2 linked regions of the Homo sapiens genome follow. The protein of the gene in region 2 interacts with the protein of the main gene of each other region in a pairwise test. Each region holds a gene or a part of one and is shown on either strand. Other genes may lie near its edges.

Region 1 (3,812 bases), on a different chromosome or scaffold from region 2:
AATTATACAATTCAATGGTTTGGGGCAAATTGTTACTATTTTTTTTATTTTTTGAGACAGAGTCTTACTCTATCACCCAGGCTGGAGTGCAGTAGCCTGATCTCGGCTCACTACAACCTCTGCCTCCTGGGTTTAAGTGATTCTTGTGCCTCAGCCTCCCAAGTAACTGGGATTAGAGGCATATGCCACAAGGCATGGCTAATTTTTGTATTTTTAGTAGAGATGAGGTCTCACCATGTTGGCCAGGCTGGTCTCGAACTCCTGACCTCAGGTGATCCACCCGCCTTGGCCTCCCAAAATGCTGGTATTACAGGCTAGTTTTTTAAAATTGTGGTTATATATATAACATAAAATTTACCATTCAACCATTTTTAAGTGTATGATTCAGTGGTACACAACCCATTATGGCTTAGTCTATTTTTAAGTATTCACACCAATGTCTGAATTTTTGAGAAGCATTTCTTCCTTCTTCTGTGTCCACTTCTAAGAGCTGTGCATCAGAGTGTTTTTAAAATTTAAAATATACATAGAAAGTTTGTAAGAAGTACTGATAGGAGTAAATCCTAACAAACTGTGGCTTAACATTTCTATTTCCAGATGATACAAAAGTAAATAAACTTACTAGATTTGTATTTGGTACAAAGCTGCAGAATCAGAAAGAATAGATTATGATCATTTTTTCTTATAAAATATCAAGAGATCTCAGGAAAACTGAGAAGTGGTAAGTACAAAGAAAATGAAGTTTAAAGTCAAGTCTTCCTAATCTGTAGATTAGGGAACGGAAAATTCTACAAAAATAGACTAAGAAAGACCAGCTGTCAGATCTTTCAAAAATGAGGACTTTTCATAAGGATCATCCATGTGTATTAAGTATACACTTAGAGTGATTTTTTTGGGGGGGTTGGGGGTAGAGATGGTATCTTGCTATGTTGCCCAGGATGGTCTTGAACTCCGGGGCTCAAGTGATCCTCCCCACTAGGTCTCCCACAGTGCTGGGATTACAGGCATGAGCCACCATGCCCAGCCTAGAGTGAATCCTGACTTTAAAACTGGTATTCCTTCTATAGCCAGTTCTTATCAATTACATTATAAAACTGATCTAGAAATAAGAATATTCTTTTAATTGGATCCAAGGATTTAGAACTCTCTGGATTTACTGAATTGCTCTTTAAAAAAGTAGTTCTATCTCACATATGTAAACTAAAACCTTTCACCTTGCAGATCTTCTAAGCAGCTGCCTAAAAAATACAAACCAGATAGATAGCAAAACTGCCCTTTTCTGTATTTCTTGGGCCAGCACTAATGTCACATTAACTAGGGTAGCACAGCTCAACAAAGTGGAACATACTCAGTTGTCTTAACTCACTGGCTTGTCTATACCTAACTGGATCATGCAGCTCTATCTTTAAGAAGGCTTTTCTATTTCTGATTTTAAAAGTAATATGTATTTGCCTTAAAAATTTTACAGAAATCACCAGGAATTCTATCACCCAACAATGATCTTAACAGTTTGGTTTTTCCATTTCCACTATTTTGTATGCTCATAAATAAACATACACTTTAAAAATAGGGATCATATTAAATATACAGCAGTCAGCCGGGCACGGTGCCTCATGCCTGTAATTCCAGCACTTTGGGAGAACGAGGTAGGCGGATCACTTGAGGTCAGGAGTTCAAGGCCAGCCTGGCCAATATGGCAAAACCCCTTCTCTACTAAAAATACAAAAATTAGCTAGGCGTGGTGGCGCATGCCTGTAGTCCCAGCTACTCAGGAGGCTGAGGCATGAGAATCGCTTGAACCCGGCAGGCAGAGGTTGCAGTGAGCTGAGATTGGGCCACTGCACTCCAGCTTGAGTGACAGAGCAAGACTCTGTCTCAATAAATAAATAAATAAATAAAGCAGTCTATCCTTTTTAAAAGATACCTGTTATATCATGCATTTTCCTGTGTTCTTAGTCTTTAAAGGCCCTTCTTTTAAGTGATCCATGTGGTACAAAAATGCATAGAATATTTTCTTCTATGTATACCCTATTAACTTCACTTGTAGGGTTAGATGAAATTTAAATTTCCAGATAGTAAGCCCCAAAATATTCTCCTAGTATTTTAAACTTACTCCTTCCAAGTCCTCCAGTATCAGCACGAACTTCAGTCACCCTTCTGGGAGTCAAAGGGGAGCCAGCAATGCAAATTTCATCTGCCCTTTCCAGGTTCTGAGGTGGCATGACCTATGAAGAATTGGTTACACAGAATGCCAGTATCCAAAAAAGCACTTTAATTACAAATACAATAGTAATCTAAGGCAGAAAAAGTATCTTAACAATTATTCCATCTAAATAAAATCAGCTGTCTTTCCCATTTTAATAATAAAGTTAAAAAAAAAACTTTTGGCAGTCAAAAAATTCAAAACCTTGTAATTGGATACTAAATATGAGTCAAACTTCATTACTGGTTTGGAGAGTTTGAATATCAACCACTCTAAAGCAGGAGTCCCCAACCCCTGGGCCATGGACCCTGTTAGGAACTGGGCAACATAGCAGGAGGTGAGCAGCAGGCAAGTGAGCATGCGAGCAAAGCTTCATCTGTATTTAAAGCTGCTCCCCATCGCTCACATTGCCGCCTGTGCTGGCCTCCTGTCAGATTAGTGGTGGCATTAGATTCTCACAGGAGTGTGAACCCTATTGTGAACTGCACACATAAGGGATCTAGGTTGCATGCTCCTTATGAGAATCTAATGCCTGCTGATCTGTCACTGTCTCCCACCGCCCCCAGATGGGACCATCTAGTTGCAGGAAAACAAGCTCAGGGCTCCCACTGACTCTACATTTTGGTGAGTTGTATAATTATTTCATTATATATTACCACGTAATAATAATAGAAATAAAGTGTGCAATAAATGTAAGGCAGTTGAATCATCCCAAAATCTCTCCAACCCCCAACCCTGTCCATGGAAAAATTGTCTTCCATGAAACTGGTCCTTGGTGCCAAAAAGGTTGGACCACTGCTCTATGGGAAAGAAACTTGGTAAGGAAATCAAGAAAGAACACTGAATTTTTACTCTGTCACCAAAATCTTAGGACAACCACAAATTATCTGACTCGTTTCCTCTTTGACATGGGGTGAAATGTGACAGGTCACCTACCTTACTTAAGGGTGTATGTCTGCTGCCTAAACCCTGAAGGCTAGGCAGTGAGCCAAGGCCATGGTGCCCAGCCAAGGAACAGGTGTCCCTGAGAACCCCAACATCCCAGAGAAGATCTGAGAAACTACCAAGGAAAACAGTCCCATCGTGCACACACATAGTAGGCAAAGAGCCAGAAAATTAGCTTAAAAGCAGCTTAGCGATGGGAGGTGGCGAGGATCTCTAGAGCTGTCCTGCTGCTACCTAGGAGTACCCTGTATATAAGTCTTTTATTTTTCCCCACCACCTCTGCCTCCTCCATATGTAAGTCTTAATAAACGTTATCTACTTACCAAGCTGGACTTGTCTGAGTCATTCTTTGGTCTCTTGGCACCTTCCCAATTTGTGGGTAGAGAGGGACGTTACAGTCCAAGATTTTTCTCATAACAAGGTGTAATTATAACATATTAAACCTAATTGCCACCCTCCCATCCCCAAAAGGATTATTAATAGATTAGATATTGATGTATTTTTCTCATAAAAAGATGTTATTTTCACAAACCTCTTCACATGTAGGAACTCTGTTTTCATTGTCTCTAATTTTTTCCCAGAGTGGAGACTCTGGTTTCCATGCCAAATGATCTAAGATCTGTTCTTCAATCTGATTAAGGTGTTTTACCACCTCTCTACAAAG
Region 2 (3,812 bases):
TCCACGGGGAGCCCAGAGCCCGTGCCGATCCGCGCTCCGCTCCCGAGGACTTCCAGGGAGGGGCCTGTGCTGGCAGCAGAGCCAGTCGGTGGCCCTCCCCCGACCCCCCGCTCCCCGAATGTGGCCCTCCCTGGGGGCTTCGGCCACACCTGGCACGTGGTCAGTTTTCATCTCCCTTTCTCCACAAAAGGGACTCGAACTAAACCACCCGACGCTGGTAAAGCCCCATCTGCCCCAGGGACCCCTCCCGCTGTGTTTGGGGACTGAATCCCAGCACCTAGGAAGAGGCGCTCATTGGCCCCGAGGCCCCGGACCCATCCTTGGGCACTGCCGGGCCCTGGGGAGAGAGGTGTGGCCATTGTCTGCGGGCACTGCCTCTGCAGCCGCCCCTGGGGGTGGGTCAGTGCCCACCCTGTGTTGCCTCAGGCGCCAAGGTGGGGTTCACTGGGATATGTCCCCCTCCCCTGGTGCACCAAGAGAGCCAGTCCCCTACAGGAGCCAGACCCACGGCTCAGAGCGGGTTCTGTCCCCATTCGGGAAAGGCCGCCGTGTGGTCATCCTGACGCCAACGTCCGCGCAGTCCAGAGCCACGGGGGCTCCGCTCCACCGCCTGGGATAGGACATGTGCTTAATCTGGTGATCGGCGCAGCTCCCCCCAAAGCACCCCCGGCACCAGCGTGTGACTCTGCGGCCCCTCGTGAAGGGGGTGAAACCAGCCCATGCCGCCGGATCCCTCACCCACACCAGCAAATGAGGATCGGAGCAAAGATAAAAATTACATCTGAAAAAGGATACAAAAATAAGAAAACCAGCTTGCTCGCTGTAAAAAATAGAATCTTCTGTTTCTTCAAAAAACAACAATCTCAACGACACCCAAGGGACTCAGGACAAGCTGAGGGAGCTGCGGGATCCGCCCCAGCAGACACGCAGGCCCGCGGGGTGGCCACCTCCTTCCAGGAGGCCCAAGCCGCCTTTCCCTCCCTTCAGCCCAGCGCAGGCGGCCCCAGCAGACCAGGCCTGCGGGCGCTCCCTCCACAAATGCCACCTTGTTCCCGGGAAGCCCAGGCTTCCCTGGGGCAGGGCGGGGGCTGGGGGGGTCTGTGCCCGGACCGGCACCGGCTAGGCACGCGGGGGAGGGAACGCTGTCGCATGTCGGCTGCAGGCAGTGCAGGCCCAGGCCTCTGGGCTCGGCTCACGGTTGCTCCCTAAAGCACAGGGGCTGCCAGAGCCTCTCGGATGGCCCAAAGGCGGCTGCAGCCTGGGCCACCATGGTCCCGGAACACTCCTCCCCACTTCCTCCCCCAACCAACCCAGGCAACCGCAGCCTGGGGGCCATGTGCCAGACATGCCACAGTGCTCGGAGCACCTCCAACAGCCTTCGCGGATGTTCTCCTGGGCCTTCCAAAGAGCAAAGTGTGAGAAAGATGTGCTTTTACCTGCACCATCCTGTGCCCTTACTGGTCCCCAGCTACAGACCTCCTGGCCGGCGTGTCAGGCCGAGAGCAGCAGGCAGGCCCTTACAGACGCGGTGCTGAGCGCCCTGGAGGCCAGCAAGGAAGGTGCCACCAAAGACACTGAGGGCAGGCGAGGGGTGGGCCCTTCTCACCCTCTCTGTTCCCGTGGAGCGAGTGTGGAGCGCAGGCAGGGTCACTGCGCCCGGCCCCAGCCCGGCACCAAGGGCAAATGCCACAGGAGGGTCTCATGTAAGAGGAAGGAGGGCCGCCAGGCCCGTTTCTCGGTGGTTGGTGAAAGGCCCCCATGTCCCTCCTTGACGACATCTTTCTGTCCCCAGGAGGAAGGGCCCCGCACTCTTCAGCTATGGCTTTGGTGGTGGACGAGCTTCTGGCCTCTGGAGAGCGGGACACAAGGTTGCGAGAACCTCTTGGGGTGGCTGGAGAGGTTTCTCTGTCCAGGCTGGAACGGAGAAGGGCAGGGCCAGGGGTCCTGTGTGTCTTCTCCACGGGCCCCCGAGGGCCTCTGCCCCCTCCCCCAGTCTGCGGGTGGCCCTCAGAGGCACCTGACGTGCCCTGTGGGAGAGGGGCACCCCCGTCCCTGTGAGCCCTGGCCCCTTCTTGGTCGATAAAACGCAGAGGTCAACACAATAGAACCACAGGTCCAGGAGAATTATTGCAAAAGCTCATGAGGATGTCCAATTGTTTCCACTACCAAATCGTAAAAAAAAAAAAAGAAAAAGAAAAAGAAAAAGAAAATTCCAGCAACGTCCTGGGCAAGTCAATACTAGCTGTCCCCGCCAGACGCTGCCGCTGAGGTGATCTTGATGTACTGGCTGAGAATGGTCTCGAAGGCCTCATCCCTGTGCACCATGGCACCAAACACGAGCGGCTGGCAGGGAAGAAATGCCACCAGTGAGCATGGCACAGCCAGGCTGGCGCCAGGACCAGGACCGAGACGAAGTCCAACACCAGCCCCAGGCCAGCACGCTAGTCACGTGGGTCTGGGTGCAAAAGACAGGTGTCTCCCCACCACCCGGAGCCAGGCTCCAGCCTTCAGGGGAACAGAGCCAAGAGGCAGAGGGGAGCCAGGCTTTAGCCCCGTGCCTCCCTCCTCCCAAGTCACTGAGTCAGGGGACCCCTGTGCCCAACATCCCTGTCTGTCCGGTGACTCGATGGCCCCAGCAAGATTTCCAACCCAACCTGGACGCAGCCCCAGGCTCTAGCTGCTGCGAGGGAGGGGGCGGCTTTGTGACCCTGCTGCCCAAACTAAAACTCTGGCTGTCTGCCCCACGCTGGTCCCAGGGTTGCTCAGAGTCAGGCCCCTGGGCCCACACCAACCCCTTGGCGGCCCCCCGCCCGGCACCTACTTTCTGGGTGGATGGCGTCGACACGGCAATCCCCATGCCTGAGCCTGGGAGGACAGACAGGACCTTGTACTGAAAGGCAAAGCGTGGCCGTCACCACAGGTCTCTCCTGGGGACAGGGAGGCACAGCCCTCCACAGGCCCAGGGCATCCTCCTCCACTGGGCACACAGGCAGCAGGGCCCACGGGCACCTGGGACTTCCAAACAACAGAAGGTAAGGGCCTGTGGACACCTCCTCACTTTGTGGCCGAGACACCAGACCTGTAAAGGGTCTGTCCCACCCCAGCCCAGACCGTCGGCCAGCTGGCCTGAGGAAGGTCAGAGACAAGCCGGCCTGAGGAGGCTGACGGTAGGCACTCAGCCCCAGAACTCGCTCTCAGGGCCTGGCACCAGGAGGGCCATCTGTCAGCACCGCCAATCCCAAGAGGCAGGCGGAAAGGACCCCAGCCCTGAACTCACCCCTTCTGGTCACCTGACTGCACGCTTTTTTCCAGAGCCGGGTGGGAGAGATGACCCACAACTGCCGTGGGGCCGGGAGTGCCCGCCGTGCCAATGCGGACATGCCCAGGACGCTCGGAGCTGGGAGGGAGCTGGGGGCCCTGACCACTCGGGCCAAGTGTGCCTGCCAGTGCCTCACTGAGCCTTCCCTGCCCCAGAAAACAAGGGACCACAGGCACTTGTGGCCACGCCCACCTGCTCATTCCATGCTACGGTAAAATGCTGAGAAAATGCCCAGAGCGGGCGCGACCATCTGAGCTCCCACCTGAAAACCTGCATCCGAGGCAGGGGCTCAGGGCCCCTGTGCTTTTCTTTATGGGGAGGGTCCCAGATACGAGGGGAACACAGCAGCCAGAGTGGGGCTTGGGTCCTGACCTCCTGGGCTCCAACCCAGCCCCTCCACTTTGAGACACACGGTCCAGGCAAGTGGACCCCAGGGCAGGGGCAGACCCACAGGGACATGGGGACTCAAGTCAAGGAAACGGACCATGGCCGG

Evidence for each region.
Region 1: the proteins of GRAMD4 (region 2) and RBL2 interact in a two-hybrid assay, tested with the Homo sapiens proteins (one study listed by BioGRID).

What each region holds. Positions count from the first base shown.
Region 1 is NC_000016.10:53,465,471-53,469,282, reverse strand, and holds part of RBL2 (retinoblastoma-like protein 2), read right to left. Parts: coding exon 3,681-3,812; intron 2,226-3,680; coding exon 2,114-2,225; intron 1-2,113. UniProt on the Homo sapiens protein: Key regulator of entry into cell division. Directly involved in heterochromatin formation by maintaining overall chromatin structure and, in particular, that of constitutive heterochromatin by stabilizing histone methylation.
Region 2 is NC_000022.11:46,675,678-46,679,489, reverse strand, and holds part of GRAMD4 (GRAM domain-containing protein 4), read right to left. Parts: intron 2,891-3,812; coding exon 2,822-2,890; intron 2,344-2,821; coding exon 2,239-2,343; 3' UTR 1,915-2,238; coding exon of another isoform or gene 1,813-1,914; 3' UTR 1-1,812. UniProt on the Homo sapiens protein: Plays a role as a mediator of E2F1-induced apoptosis in the absence of p53/TP53. Plays a role as a mediator of E2F1-induced apoptosis in the absence of p53/TP53. Inhibits TLR9 response to nucelic acids and regulates TLR9-mediated innate immune response.